2 linked regions of the Homo sapiens genome follow. The protein of the gene in region 1 purifies or fractionates together with the protein of each later gene. This does not show direct contact. Each region holds a gene or a part of one and is shown in the gene's direction. Other genes may lie near its edges.

Region 1 (8,088 bases):
AGGAAAGAGGGTGTTATTTTAGTTTATAAAAAGTGAGGGCCGGGTGCAGTGGCTTACGCCTGTAATCCCCGCACTTTGGGAGGCCGAGGCAGGCGGATCACCTGAGGTCAGGAGTTCCAGACCAGCCTGGCCAACATGGAGAAACCCTGTCTATACTAAAAATACAAAAATTAGCCGGACATCTGGCGCACACCTGTAATCCCAGCTACTCGGGAGGTTGAGGGAGGAGAATAGCTTCAACTTGTGAGGCAGAGGTTGCATTGAGCCGAGATCACGCCAATGCACTCCAGACTGGGTGACAGAGCGAGACTCTCTCTCAAAAAAAAAAAAACAGTGAGTAAATTTTTATGGTTTTATTCTTTTTATTTTATTTTTTATTTTTTTGAGATGGATTCTCGCTCTGTCTCCCAGGCTGGAGTGCAGTGGCGCGATCTCGGCTCACTGCAAGCTCCGCCTCCCGGGTTCATGCCATTCTCCTGCCTCAGCCTCCCAAGTAGCTGGGACTACAGGCGCCCGCCACCACGCCCGGCTAGTTTTTGTATTTTTAATAGAGGTGGGGTTTCACTGTGTTAGCCAGGATGGTCTCAATCTCCTGACCTCGTGATCTGCCCGCCTCGGCCTCCCAAAGTGCTGGGATTATAGGCATGAGCCACCGTGCCCGGCCTATGGTTTTATTCTTAATAAATTTGGGTTTTCTTTTTCTTTTTTTTTCTTTTGTTTGTTCCAGACAGTGTTTTGCTGTGTTGCCCAGCCTGGAGTGCAGTGGTGTGATCACAGGTCACTGCAGCCTCAAACCCCTGGGCTCAAGTGATCCTCCCTCCTCAGCCTCTTAAAGTGTTGGGATTATAGGCATGAGCCACTGCGCCTGGCCCTGTTTTATCTTTATTATGTAATTTTGAGAAGTTTTGGATTAACTACTTGAAGACAAGTGTCAGTTGTTTGCTTTGTAATGGAAGACTGGGAGTTCTTCGTGTGTGGTCGTGTCAGCCCCTTTGATGGGTGTTTCTTGGGACATTTAAAACATAATATTCCTTCACATAGTTGTAAATGCACCTGCTTGTCACATTTGTCTTTTACCTTTTTACTAAACGTGAGATGAAGAGGGAAGGGGTGAAGGTGTTGCAGACATGGTGTGTTGCTGGAGGAGACTGGGTCTGCTGCTTGAGGCCTTGTGAGCTGCAGGGGCACCCCCATGGGCAGGTGTGGCAGGTGAGTGCACACTGAGTCCTGAAGGGGCTGGCCTTCCGGGCTCCTTGGGGGCCTACAAACCTGCCTGGAGGCGGGCTGTCCTTGGGCCTTTTGTATGAATTATGAACGAGGGCCTTAGGTGTTGAGTGTCCCTGCTGCTGCAGCAGAATGGGTGCAGGCTTTGATGTTTGCTAGGATTTGCTGGAAAACTGGTGGCCAAAGGCAGAATCTGGCTCAAGGTCATAATGTATGTATCCTGCTTTACTTAAAAAATTGAGTTGTTGGCAACAGTTAAAATTTGTGTTATTCTACCTACAAATCCTGAATTTTGCTTTTTATCTCTTGAGTGTTTTTGGTTGTTGGGTTGGTGTGTTTTTTTTTTTTTTCCCGTTTTCTTTTTAAGATACAGTCTCTCTGTTGCCCAGGCTGGAGCGCAGTGACGCGAACTCTGCTCAGTGCAACCTCTGCCTCCCAGGCTGAAGCGATCTTCCTGCCTCAGGCTCCCAAAGTGCCAGGATTACAGGATTTCTGCCACCTTGCTGGGCAGAAAGTTACTTTTGATATATTCTGGTTGCATATGTTTTTTGGTTTTTTTTGAAATGGAGTCTCACTCTTTTGCCCAGGCTGGAGTGCAGTGGTGCAGTCCTGGCTCACTGTAACCTCTGCCTCCTGGGTTCAAGCGATTTTCCTGCGTCAGCCTCCCGTGTAGCTGGGATTGCAGGCGCCTGCCACCAAACCCAGCTAATTTTTGTATTTTTAGTAGAGACAGGGTTTCACCATGTTGGTCAGGCTGGTCTTCAACTCCTGACCTCAAGCAATCCACCCACCTTGGCCTCCCAAAGTGCTGGGATTACAGGCGTGAGCCACTGCACCCGGCCCTCTGGTTGCACATACTTTTTTTTTTTCTTTAAGGCGAAGTCTCACTCTGTCATCCAGGCTGGAGTGCAGCGGCACGCCCTCTGCTTCCTGCAACCTCTGCCTCCCGATTTCAAGCGTTTCTCCTGCATCAGCCTCCCGAGTAGCTGGGATTACAAGTGGGCACCACCATGGCCGGCTAATTTTTGTATTTGTTTGGTTGAGATGGGGTTTCACCACATTGGCCAGGCTGGTCTCGAACTCCTGACCTCGTGATCCACCTGCCTCGGCCTCCCAAAGTGTGGGGATTACAGGCGTGAGCCACTGTGCCTGGCCTGCATAGACGTTTTAAAAGTAGTAAGCTGATAAATATATGTGGGAATCTCAGGATCCTATCAGAAAACCATTCCAAACTTAGCACATTTTGTGGTAAATTGTATTTGGAGACTGATGGGTCGTTAACATTAGAAGGCATGGTATAGACTCCTGATTAAACACTCATACTTTGCTGTTTCATCAGGTAGAGACTCTCTTAGTTTCTAACTCTGCTATTTGATGCATGCCTTCATTCAGGAAGATGATCTGATGAAAAGCATTTTGATTTTTGTTTTCAAAACCAGAAGGGCATATACCAGAAAATTAACAGTGGTGGTCAGAAAGGAATAGAGTTGTTGGTTTTTTCGTTGTTATGGTTTTTGGTATTTCCTACAATAAACACATTAGGTTACTTATATAACATTTTTTTTCATTTTAGAATTAACTATACCACTAATAAAACATGTATTTTGGACATCTTAAAGCAATCTATAAATAACAGGCCCATTACTGGTCCCCTTGACTTAGAGATGCACACGCACACTCACTGCACTTGCTGCATTTTGTGTCACCTCCTCGTGACCACAGTGGACAGGACACTTCACCCTCAAGCGTGGGGTGGTGTGGCAGATGTGAGGAGAGGTCTGCTTTCACAAAACTTGGTGAAACAATGGCAAGATGGCCAAGGTAAAGCATTCTGTTACTTATAACTGTTGCTGTGAGTAGTAACTTAACTGTTTAAAGCAGTATTTTAAAAACCAAAAGCTGGTAAAATGTAAGGATACTTTCTCTAGGAAAAGTATGTGCTCCTGCAGCCAGGATTCTTCATGGAATGAAGGCATGGCAGGGCCTGACTGATTTTCATCTCACATCGTCATCCTGAACTCCTCTGCACAGTTACAGCTTGACATCAGCAGAGACATACCTCCTCTTCCTGTCCATTGGCTCTAAAATGGTGGGCAAAGGTCAGGTACCAGTCAGCTTTTTCCACAGAATTCCTGACATTTTAATAAGCTAAACATGCAGTCATCAGGTATTAACCCCTATTGGATCTTGGACATCAGCTTTTTCCCCCTTTTTTTTGAGATAGGGTCTTGTTTTCTTGACCAGGCTGGAGTGCAGTGGCGCAATCATGGCTCATTCCAGCCTTGACCTCCTGGCCTCAAGTGACCCTCCTGCCTCAGCCTCCCTAGTACCTGGGACTACAGGCATGTGCCACCATACCTGGCTAACTTAAAAAAAAATTTGTAGAGACAGTGTTACACTGTGTTGTCAGGGCTGGTCTCAAACTCCTGTGCTCAAGTAATTCTCCCACCTCGGCCTCCCAAAGTGCTGGAATTATAGGTGTGAGCCATCCCACCTGGCTAAAATTTATTTTCTTTATACATGTATAGGTAAACTAAGTAGTATGTGTAGAATAGAGCCATTGTCTTTCTGCTGTACACTAAGTTAGGAATCAAATTTCTTAAGCCATTTTGTCAATTATGTATATAAAAACCATTGGTGCTTTAGAAGCAGATATTTCATTAACTTTTTTCTGATTATATCATTGTACATCATCAGTTCAGTCTAAAAAGGAGTTTTTTTCATATGTATTATAAAATATTTCATGATATTTGAGTTTAGTATGCCTTTAATCCAGTTGTAGATGTTAAAATAGGAGTAATTTTGTGTTCAAAATAATGATCTTCTGAAAAGTGAAATTCTAGGAAAGAGTCCACTGTTTAAAGCTAGCAGCTGGTGGCCGTGTGGCCGAATAATGTCCCAGGCCAGGGCACTCCCCTCTCAGATGGTTGGTCATGCTGCGTCGGAGATCAGGAATCCTCAAGGAACCTTTATGTTATAGTTGTACCAGTGCTTTAAACATAATGAAAGGTGCATTTGTTTTATTTTACCCATCTATAAATTGTGAGAGGTTTGGCTATGGAGAGTCTAGTGAGCTTATTGAACAGCATAAGAAGATAAGTGTGTGTGTTTGTGTGTGTGTGAGAGTGTGTGTATGTGTGTGTGAGGGGGAGGGAGAAGTTATTGTGCTTTCCAACATATAATAAATTGCTTACTTTGATCACTAACTGTTAGGTAAATACTGATGATTTCTAGCATAAGTCTTTTTTCTTTTTTTTGGAGACAGGTCCTCCCTCTGGCGCCCAGGCTGGAGTGCAGTGGCCCAATCAGCTTACTTCAGCCTTGACCTCCCTGACTCAGGTGATCCTCCCACCTCGGCCTCCCAAAGTGCTGGGATTACAGGCATAAGCCGCTGTGCCCAGCTGATATAAGACATATTTTTAACCAACTTTAAGATCTTAGTTTTTTTTCAGGATGGTTATAAGCGAAGGTAGAATTGCAGAAAGACTTTGTGGTAAATATTCAGGATTCGGCTCTGTTGCCTTACAATTTGTTAAGTGCATGATGGAAAAATAGTTGAAACAATGCAACAGCTGTCTCAGTTCTGAAAGTTAACTCAGAAATGGCAGAAAGCAAGGTCAGGCATGGTGGCTCCGAGCACTTTGGGAGGCCAACGTGGGAGGATGGTTGAAACTCTGTCTCTATGAAAAATATAAAAATTAGCTGGGCATGACAGTGCACACGTGTAGTCCCAGTTACTCAGGAGGCTGAGTTGGGAGGATCACCTGCGCCCAGGAGTTTGAGGCTACAGTGAGCTATGGTGGCACCACTGCACGCCAGCCTGGGCGGCAGAGCAAGGCCTTGTCTCAAAAAAAAAAAAATCATAAAAATAAAGCAATGGTAGAAAGCAGAATTTGACCTTTCAGTTACAGATGAGGAACAAAGTGAGGAGAGGCCATTTTTTGGTAAAAGAACCATCTGGCGGGACGCATTGGCTCATGCCTGTAATCCCAGCACTTTGGGAGGCCAAGGCAGGAAGATCACCTGAGGTCAGGAGTTCGAGACCAGCCTGGCCAACGTGGTGAAACCCCATCTCTACTAAAAATACAAAAATTAGCCGGGTCTCATGGCAGGCGCCTGTAATCCCAGGTACTCGGGAGGCTGAGGCAGGAGAATCACTTGAACCCGGGAGGCAGAGGTTGCACTGAGCCGAGATCGCGCCATTGCACTCCAGCCTGGAGGACAAGAGCGAGACTTTATCTCCAAAAAAAAGAGAACCATCCAAAAATTGCTCAGAGGTCAAGAATTTCAGAAGAAAATACAAAAACTTTGGCTGAAGAAGATTTAACTAGTGCTATAGAAGGCTTAAGAAGTGTGGTTCTAGCACTTTTCCAACTCATATTTGTATCAAATACCAGGAAAAATAGTTATCACCATTTATCATCTAGATTTCTGGGCCGTTTTACTGTTTTGTCATTTTAAGTTGTTTTACACGTAATTTACAGAAGTAAGAATAAAGCAATAATTTAAAACAACTTTATAAGAAATTTGATCCAACCTCTTTGTATCAAGTAAGTTTTGACACACAAACATTAGAAGTGTCCTCTTAAGGAAGTGGATGGTCCAGGTTCCTTTGAAGTGTGATCATTCATGTGAGCGGGCAGCTGATTGAGACTACTGTGTCCCCTTTTCGTCCCTCACTTCCTCTTGATTCTGAGAAGATTGATCTAGGGTATTGTCAAATGAAGACTTGTCTGAGATTTTATTTTCACGTCAGTTTTGCCATCATCATTGGCCATGGGTGCTCTCTCTCTGCATTCATCTTGTGACTCATCTAATGATCCCGAAAAGTCGACACTGTCATGTTTCTTTGCTATTTTGGGAAGAAATTGAAATGTTCTTAGTGAATCATCTTGTTAAAGCAAGCTAATCTGGGCACTGTGGCTCATGCCTGTATTGCCAGCATTTTGGGATGCTGAGGTGGGAGGATTGCTTGAGCCCAGGATTTTGAGGCCAGCTTTGGAACATAATGAACAGAGACCCTGTCTCTACAAAAAAATAAAAAATAAGCTGGGCACAGTGGCGCATGCCAGTAGTTCCAGCTACTCAGGTGGCTGAGGCAGGAGGATCACTTGAGCCCAGGAGGTTAAGGTTGCAGTGAGCTGGGATTGCACCACTGCACGCCAGCCTGGGTGACAGAGCAAGACCTTGTCTCAAAAAATTAATTAAATTTCTTTTTTAAAGTAGAATTCATGGCCGGGCGCAGTGACTCACACCTGTAATCCCAGCACTTTGGGAGGCCGAGTTGGGCAGATCACAAGGTCAAGAGATTGAGACCATCCTGGTCAACATGGTGAAACCCCGATTCTACTAAAAATACAAAAATTAGCTGGGCATGGTGGCACGCGCCTGTAGTCCCAGCTACTCAGGAGGCTGAGGCAGGAGAATGGCGTGAACCCGGGAGGCAGAGCTTACAGTGAGCTGAGATTGTGCCACTGCACTCCAGCCTGGGTGACAGAGTGAGACTTCGTCTCAAAAAAGACAAAAAAGAAAAAAAAAATTAGCCGGGCGTGGTGGCATGCGCCTGTAGTCCCAGCTACTCGGGAGGCTGAGGCAGGAGAATTGTTTGAACCCGGAGGCGGAGGTTGCAGTGAGCCGAGGTCATGCCACCAGCCTGGGCGACGGAGTGAAACTTTGTCTCAAAAAAAAAAAAAAATTACAGGCTGGGCACGGTTACTCACACCTGTAATCCCAGCACTTGGGGAGGCCGAGGCGGGTGGATCACCTGAGGTCAGGAGTTCAAGACCAGTCTGGCCAACATGGTGAAACCCCCGGGAGGTTGAGACAGGAGAATCACTTGAACCCAGGAGGTGGAGGTTTCAGTGAGCCGAGTTCGTGCAACTGCATTGCAGCCTGGCAACAGAGCAAGACTCCGTCTCAAAAAAAAAAAAAAAAGTAGAATTCATTAAGAAGAGGGGCAGGAACATCATTAGGGAAATTACTTGCATTATAAAAATGTTTAGAGCTGGCCAGGTGTGGTGGCTCATGCCTGTAATCCCAGCACTTTGGGAGGCCAAGGCGGGCGGATCACGAGGTCAGGAGATCAAGACCATCTTGGCTAACATGGTGAAACCCTGTCTCTACTAAAAATACAAAAATTAGCTGGGCGTGGTGGCGGGCACCCATAGTCCCAGCTACTAGGGAGGCTGAGGCAGGGGAATGGCGTGAACCCAGGAGGCGGAGATTGCAGTGAGCTGAGATTGTGCCACTGCACTCCAGCCTGGGCGACAGAGCAAGACTCCGTCTCAAAAAAAAAAAAAAAAATGTTTAGAGCTTGGGAATTGTTAATGCGGAAGGTGCACGTTCTGAACAGGTGGAAGTGAGCTCTACTTGTTAAATGAAGTCAGCACAGGCCTGCAGATAGAGGAGCTGGGAAGGGCCTGAGGCTGCAGCCCTAGACCTTGCTTTAAATGCTTCTTTCTGGTCCTCCCCTTCTTAGCCGGAGGACTGTGATGGAGAGAAGAGAGAGGACTTGGAACAGCTGCAGCAGAAGCAAGTCAATGACCATCCTCCAGAGCAGTGTGGGATGTTCACAGTCAGTGACCACCCACCAGAACAGCATGGGATGTTCACAGTCGGTGACCACCCACCAGAACAGCGTGGGATGTTCACAGTCAGTGACCACCCACCAGAACAGCATGGGATGTTCACAGTCAGTGACCACCCACCAGAACAGCGTGGGATGTTCACAATCAGTGACCACCAACCGGAACAGCGTGGGATGTTCACAGTCAGTGACCACACACCAGAACAGCGTGGGATCTTCACAATCAGTGACCACCCAGCAGAACAGCGTGGGATGTTCACAAAGGTATTCTTTAAGTT
Region 2 (8,088 bases), on another chromosome or scaffold:
ATGTGATACTTCTTGTATGGATTTTATGAAGATCCATAGCCAAAGGTATGTTCCATTTAATTTTAAGTTTTCTTTTGGGTTTACCATAGTTGAGGTTTCCAGATAAGAAGACCTTTGGCAGAATTGCTCTTCCCTTACCACCTCCTTATCTACCTTCTTCTAATCCATTCAACCATCATCCAGACATCTTTTCATTCATTCAGTGAACATTCCCTGAGCACCTGCTATGTTTCCAGCCTCATGCACTGGGGGTAGGAGAGAAATAAATCAGATGCAGTCTCTGCCTTCTGAGAACTCCCCATCTGGTGTGGGCTTGGGGAGGTGGCAGTTAACTAAATCAATACAGGGTTGTGGGGACCTTCATGGAGGAAAGATTTTATGGCAAAGGTAACTCAGCTCAACAGAGGCCCTGGCACTTTGCCCATAGCTTGCCATTTTTTAAAATTCAAATTTAAATTTTTTATATTTTGTAGAGATGGGGGTCTTGCTATATTGCCCAGGCTGGTCTTGAACTCCTGGCCTCAAGTGGCCCCCCTGCCTCGGCCTCCCGAAGTGCTGGGATTATAGGCATGAGCCACCATGCTGGCTCCTAGCTTGCCATTTGCACTCAATACTGTTTTTATTTTTTGCTGAGACACCAGAGTGCCTCAACTCCAGGTGCTACCTCAAACAGTTGCCCAGGAGACCCTAGGGCCTCTCTCTTCTTGGGAAAAATGGGCACGAATTGATAGAATTCATTTTCTCACTCAGCTTTTTGAGAGCCTGGACTTAAACCATTTCAGACAAGCTGCAGTATATTTATGCTTTTTATGTCCTGTTATGGCAGCTCGATAGATTAATTTTATCTTATAAATTGCATTTTGCCTCCCCAGTGTTTTTATTTTCCCTGTTGTATCTTTGTGTTCTTCTCAGTTGCTTGGCTAAGTTTCAGGTCTTACGGTTTTATTTATTTTTCTTTCTCTTTGTGATTGCCTGTAGCTCAGCCCCCTGTGGGAGCAGCCTACCAGGACAGCCCAGGAGAGCAGAAAGGAATTAAAACCACATCTTCTGTCTGGAGAGACAAGGAAATGGACAGTGATCAGCAAAGAAGCTACGAGATTGGTCAGAATTCAGCCCCTGTGTGTATTGAACAGCTTCCATGTGCCAGGCACCATTTGGATGTTTTATCTAAAAATTATTACTAAGCCCATAGCAGCCCTCTCAGGGCATTATTATCATTCCAGTCTAACACATGGGAAGCTGAGGTTTTAAGAAATAATTGACCCAGGGTCACCCAGCTGGTAAGTAGGAGAAGAGTCAAGGTACAGTAGGATGTCAGAACCCACCCGTCCATGTGTCAGCATGCTTCTCTACCAGGCAGTGGGCTGGGTTCTGGTGGTTCAACATGAAAAGACACAGCCTGCTCTTAGGGACCCCACAGCTCGGAGGAGACAATCATCCCAACAGCCTGTTAGTATTCAGCGCGGGGCTGCCTGTTGCTGAGGTGTGCTTGGTGTTGGTCCGTGTGCCCAGGAGGAGTGGGTCAGAAGAGAGCCTGAGGCTGAGACTGGGTTTGTGGGGTTTGCCAGGCAGATCAGTGGAAAAGGTGCAGAGATACGGGTGAGGGCAGAGGCAAGTTGTATTCCTTTCTTTTTAAAATTATGAAGTATTAGAAGCATACATAAGCACAAAAGATAATATAACAAATACTCATGTTCTCATTCAACCAGAATGAACAAATGCCTACATTCTTTTTATGTTAGATATTTTTCCCCCTTCATTAAAAAAAATCACTATTAATCCAGATCTAATTCACTCTGTTAGAAATAATTGTCCTCAAGAATCCTAAATTTGTCATGGGATGGCCATGGGGACACCAGTCTCTGGAAAAATACTGAGTTGTGGTATATACACTGTTGTATACTTTTGCAAGGTCCAGAGTCACTGCAGTGAACACATGGTCACATGCTTCTGCGTGTTCTGGGCTTTGAGGAGAAAGCTACTCTACCAGGCAATAAAGTCCCCCTTAGCTGAATTGTGGAAAGTTGTAGAACTATAGTATTTCTTATAATGCAAATATTCATAAATGGTCTTGGGGACATCTTTTGATTTCTTCTTGATAGTTATTAATACAGACTTCTTAACTAATCGACAGCTTCCCTTTCCCTGTCAGTACTTCCCTTCATTACTGAATGTCTTTCATTTTTCTGAATGTGCTTCCAGAACTTTGTATGTGAATTGCATCTGCCTGAACTTCCACCTTTTAATTGTTGCGCAGCTGAGGCTGGGTGCTGCGTGTGACATCTTCATTGCTGTTTCTTTTTCACAAGGCCCTTGACAGATACTTGGGATGTGAATAAAGGATTTTACAGGCATCTTGGCCTTCACATTGAGGGTTAAGAACTCTCTCTCTCTTTGCTCATGCACCGCGGTACAGGAGATTGGATTGCAGGAGTGTTACTTCGGGAAGCATCATTCAGAGTGTTAGAGGCAGACTGCCAGGCTTTGAGGAGGGGCTCTACTGCTTACCTACCCTGAACCCTAAGCAAATTCTTAAGCTCCCTAAGCCTCAACTTCCTCTTCTGTAAAATGGGGGTACTAGTGATGCCTCATAATTACTTAAGGAAAGTCCTGGGAACTAATCTTTATTTCCATGAGTGAACACGCTTCTTGCCATGAAGTACAGACCAAATTCTATTATCATGAGGTTATTACAGCAAAGATATTTTCTTGTCTTGGAGGGTGATTCACTGGAAAAAAAGCCTTATGGAGAGATATCTCCCTCCCCAGTTCCTCTTTCTCTTTCTTGTTCAGCCAGAAATACTTGGTGAGTACATTCTCTGTCGCAGACCCTGTGCTAGATACTGGAGAAACAGACATGGATGACACGGTCTGCACCCTCAAGGCTCTTATTGAGTAATTATCATAACATTGTGTATAATAAAAATACTGTATTAGGAATGCTTCCTTTAGGTCAGGTAGCAGCTGCTTTCTGAAATGAAATGCCATACTTTATGGTATTTGCATCATGAACAGATACAAGAGTGTACCTCAAGTCACAAGGAGCAGATTGCAGAACCAGAAATTGGGACATGCAGTCTGATGAGGATTTGTGTGTGAATTTCTTTCTGAGAGATCTCCTAGGTCACCCAGTCCAACCCACGTTGTTGCTTTTGTAGCATTTTTCCAGGCTGGCCTTCGCACGCACGCCTCCGGTGAAGGGCATCTCCTTCTATCTTGGAATGGTTAGAGGATGTTTGTGTTACTTGGATTCCTTCACTACTATGTGCCAGACACTGTGCTAGCCTTTTTTTTCTTTTTGCAGATTTTGTTCCATATAATCCCTAAAAACAAACACACACACACAACTTTTCAGTGATGTTCTTTCCATTTTACAGATAAAGCTACTAAAGCTCAGAGAGGTCAAGTAACTTGCCTATGTGACAGAGCCAGAGTTTGAAACCATGTCTGTTGAATTTCAAAGACAGGTTTTTCTACTACATTCCGCTGCCCCTTAAGTATTCAGACAGCTCTCTATATTGAACGGAACTTTCCCTGGGCAGCCAGCAGTGTGGCACAGTGGTTAAGAACAGAAGCTGCACTACAACCATATGAGACATCTCTTTCTACATTTTAGACACAGGGGAAACTGAGGCTCTTGGATAGTAAAGTCACTTGCCTCAGGCTGTGTGGCCTTCAAACTTCATATTCTTTCTGCTGTACTACTCCACTTCTGAAACAAGTTTGACTGCATCTCTAAGGGTTTAGCTATTACTAGCTATAAGGAAATATTTCCTGGCAGTGTTGTGAGTGAGTGAAACACCTCACTAAAGGGGATGTCAGGGCATCTCCTGGAAGCCATTAGACATGGAAATGAGAAGACTGTCACGTGTTGTGGATATTCAGAATTACCACTCTTTACTGTTGCTTCACAGAATCTCTCAATATTTCTCACACTGGCACTGACTTCTGGTCTGGGTTAGGTTCTGTACTAGACGCCGAGAATGTGAAAATGAAAGGCCACATCTCTGCTGTGAAGAAACGTGCAGTCTGGTGAGGGAGAGCTACATTCAGATGACGAATTGCTATGTGAATCAATAAATAAGCCACTTAAAATTTTTACTTTAGCACCCAGCACATAGTATATTTGTCTTGAGTAATATGCATAAGGTGCTACAGAACCACAGCGAGTTGTGACTTTTGCATAGTTTGGCAGTGGGCTTGCAGAGGAAGGAAAATTAGATCTGGGTATGGAAAGAGTTCATTAGGTAGGAGTAGAATAGAGGGCTGAAGGTGTTCCAGGCAGAGGGCACGGCCCATGCAAAAGCATGGAGGCATGACACAGCACGCAATGTGCAGGGAATCATGGTTAATTTTGTAGGAAATCTCCAGAGTGGTGCCAGAGATATTCCTGGAAAGGTTGCCTGGAACTAGATCATGGAAGGTCTCATGTAGATACTGGGAATGTCGATGAATTTTAGGGGGTGTGTGTGTGGGTTTATCATGGTTAAAATTACTTTTTAGAACAGTCACTCTGAGGAAGAGGACAACTGAGGGGTAAAGAGGGAAAGACTAGGGCTTTTTGAGGGAGGCTTGTTAGGAAAGACTGGAGGCTTTTTGAGGGAAGTGTGTTAGGAAATACTAGGGCCTTTTTGAGGGAGGCTTGTTAGGTCACTGCAGTGGTCTTGGCTTGGCTAGGGCTGTGAGGAAGGAGAGAGGGTTTGGATTTTAGTAAAAGAGATACTGACATAAGTGTATTTGATTTTCAGACTCTGAGATTTGCCCACCTGATGACCTTGCCAGCTTGCCATCATGCAAAGAAAATCCTGAAGATGTTCTGAGCCCAACTTCAGTAGCTACTTACCTGAGTTCCAAGAGTCAGCCTTCTGCTAAAGTCAGTGTGATGGGGACTGATCAGTCAGAGAGCATTAATACCTCAAATGAGACAGAATACTTAAAACAGAAAATCCATGACTTGGAAACTGAGCTGGAAGGCTACCAGAATTTCATATTTCAGCTTCAAAAGCACTCCCAGTGCAGTGAGGCCATAATTACAGTTTTGTGTGGGACAGAAGGGGCCCAGGATGGCTTGAGCAAGCCCAAGAATGGTTCTGATGGGGAAGAAATGACCTTTTCAAGTTTGCACCAAGTGCGATACGTGAAACACGTGAAAATCCTCGGTCCGCTGGCCCCAGAGATGATTGACAGCAGGGTGCTGGAGAACCTCAAACAGCAGCTGGAGGAACAGGAATACAAGCTGCAGAAGGAGCAGAATTTGAACATGCAACTTTTCAGTGAGATCCATAATCTGCAGAATAAGTTCAGAGATCTCTCACCTCCCAGGTACGTTCCACCTCTGCCGTCTCCCCGTTTAAGCCTGTAGTCCCCCAGTATTGCCACTAGGTGGGAGCCCATGAGCTAAAAGAGAACACTACTCTGTGATGGGTAGAGTGTGTTCTGGGGAAGGCTTGATGGTGGGGTTCAGGCAGCCAGGTCCTGTGGAGAAGGGAGAGGTGAGGCCACAAAGAAGAGGAACAGCGACCACGCACTTGAACGTCAGTTACGAGTCTTGGGTCCTCTGGAAATCTGCAGGGCAGATTTCGCCCTCCTCAAGTTGGGGGCTCAGGGTAAAGGTTTCATACCAGTCACTTGGTGAGTGATAGTGCCTTTGCTGAACTGCAGTGTGTACTCCTGGACTCTGTTACTGGCTTTTGCTGTGCTGTGAAACTAAAACTGATGTCTAGGCAAGGTAGGAGGAATATAAATATTTTCCATATCTTTACCCTTTAAGGTCATCTTAGAGAAATAAGCTTGTGTTGAAAGAGAAGAATTCTTAGGTCATGAAGATAATGCTTTATGGGCATAGATATATACGGTTTTGCTTCATGAGATATGGCAAAAATGGGATCATTAGTAAAGTTGACCTTCATTTGTCACTAATTTGAGTCAAACACATTGTTCTGAATTGTCAGGAGCCAGGATGAATTTTTCAAGACTTCCCAAGCAGTGAGATTGAAGGAAGCTTGTAATTATTGAAAGGCTGTTGTCTCAGGCCCCTGGTTAGGCACTTTTCTTATCTAATCCTCAAAATCACCTGAGAAGGAGGTATTCTTAAACTAGTTATTACAGGTAGGGAAACTGAGCCTCAAAGTAGCTGCAGTGACTTGGCAGAGAACATTCACAGAGCTGGTCAGAGCCATTGCCAGGGTTCAAGCCCACATCATCCCACTCCAGTACCCATGTTTACTCATGTTACTCATGAGTTACCCATGTTTACCCATGTTACTCCAGTACTCACATGATACTGGCCCCCACCTTTAATGCTGGTATCATGTAATCTGCATGTGCACACTCTATGTTGAAGGTGACTGCCAGCCCATGTAGTGTTGTCATTTCCAGGAAGGAGAAAATTATGTTGAACTGAAGTGTCAACATCTTTGCCAAGCTACTCTCTGGAGCAAGGTTATTGTGGCCAGTTTACATGAGTCACATTTCCCTTAACCTGTTTACTTCTCAGTGTCTTTCTCTTATGGGCTCACGTAGGAAAAGGTGGCACATGACGGTAAAAAGGTAATATTGCATAATGATCTTCAAAGTGAGAATTGTGTTTGAATCCAAAATCTTTACCACTTAATTAGCTTTGCAGTCAGTTTATTCTTCTGTAAAAGGGGACATTTATACATTTGTTGGAAGACTGAGAGGATCAGATAACATATAAAGCACTGAATTCAGTTACTGACAGGTCCTAGACCCTCAGTAAATGGTAGTTAGCATCATGATTATTCAGTGACGTTTTGTTCGGGAGGAGAGAGTCCTGTCTTTTTTTCTTTGTGGTACACTTTCTTTATCACACTTCATGAGAATTTTTGGTAGATCCTCTGACCCTTGGGGCACTTGTTTCTACAATTCAGAATAGTATTTTTGAAGAGTGTATGGAAACTTATTGTTTGCCTGAGTTCTTGCCAATCTGTACTTTAATTGGGGGCTTTATAAGGTTAAAAATGTTGCAGAAGAATCTTTGTTCCAGCCTTTGTTGGCTGTGTGAAATCAAAGAAGAGCTGACCTTGTACAGTTTCAATTTTTCTAAAAGTATATATACTTGTACAGCTGCAGGCTTTTAAAAATTGTACTCTGTCATTTTTCCAATTAGTGTTAAGGTCACAAAAATTCAATTCTAAAATGGTCCAAGTATTTTCTTTCCCCTCTTTTATCAGATACGATTCATTAGTTCAGTCCCAAGCCAGGGAGCTCTCCCTTCAACGGCAGCAGATTAAGGATGGCCATGGCATCTGTGTCATCTCCCGTCAACACATGAACACCATGATTAAGGCATTTGAGGAGTTGCTGCAGGCCAGTGATGTGGATTACTGTGTGGCCGAGGGTTTCCAGGAACAGCTGAATCAATGTGCTGAGCTGCTGGAGAAATTGGAAAAGCTATTTCTCAACGGTAGGTAGGGTGAGGTACGCGAGTCTTAAGACATCAGTAATTGACCCAGGACTTCTTGGAGGGGCACAGGAGGAGCTAACTCCTTGGCCTTAGTTATCTTTCACCCCTCTGCCTTGATGAGGTGACAGCAGAACCACACTGGCTGCTGCTTCCTCCCAGTGACCACTTCCACATGGCTTGTGGTCGGCACTGTTACAAACCAGGAGTCCAGTTTAGACGCCTCAGGGGCCGGGCTGGTGAGGTACATGAGTGAAGCCAGCCAGAAGGCACTGCCTCTCACTCAGCAGTGGTCACGTAGTTGCCAGTTCTTGCATCTTACAAATTTTCCAGAAAAGATGGGATTTTTTATTTATTTATTTTTTTTTGTGAAAACTCATGTGTTTTAAATGTTGGCAAGCAAAAAATCCAGTCAACCAAGCAAAATTTTTATCAGTTAAAAAGTATATCGAAGAGTTAAGGATGGCCAGAGGAAGGGTGAAAGAAACCTTTGCTATGTGCTAGGTAAAATTTTTAAAATAATTTTTTTTTGAGACTACAGCAAAGAACTCCCATTTACTGTGCACCCAGCTTCATCAGTTGTTAGCATTTGCCACATTTGTTTTATCTTTCCCTGTCTGTACACACACGCGCTCTATTATTATCTTTCTGAGCTCTATGAGAGT

Evidence for each region.
Region 2: the proteins of PCNT (region 1) and CDK5RAP2 purify together in Homo sapiens (co-immunoprecipitation; 4 studies listed by BioGRID and IntAct, with this or other methods). This does not show direct contact.

The regions. Positions count from the first base shown.
Region 1 is NC_000021.9:46,326,695-46,334,782, forward strand, and holds part of PCNT (pericentrin), read left to right. Parts: intron 1-7,702; coding exon 7,703-8,074; intron 8,075-8,088. UniProt on the Homo sapiens protein: Integral component of the filamentous matrix of the centrosome involved in the initial establishment of organized microtubule arrays in both mitosis and meiosis. Plays a role, together with DISC1, in the microtubule network formation.
Region 2 is NC_000009.12:120,436,633-120,444,720, reverse strand, and holds part of CDK5RAP2 (CDK5 regulatory subunit-associated protein 2), read left to right. Parts: intron 1-978; coding exon 979-1,101; intron 1,102-4,748; coding exon 4,749-5,322; intron 5,323-7,193; coding exon 7,194-7,426; intron 7,427-8,088. UniProt on the Homo sapiens protein: Potential regulator of CDK5 activity via its interaction with CDK5R1. Negative regulator of centriole disengagement (licensing) which maintains centriole engagement and cohesion. Involved in regulation of mitotic spindle orientation.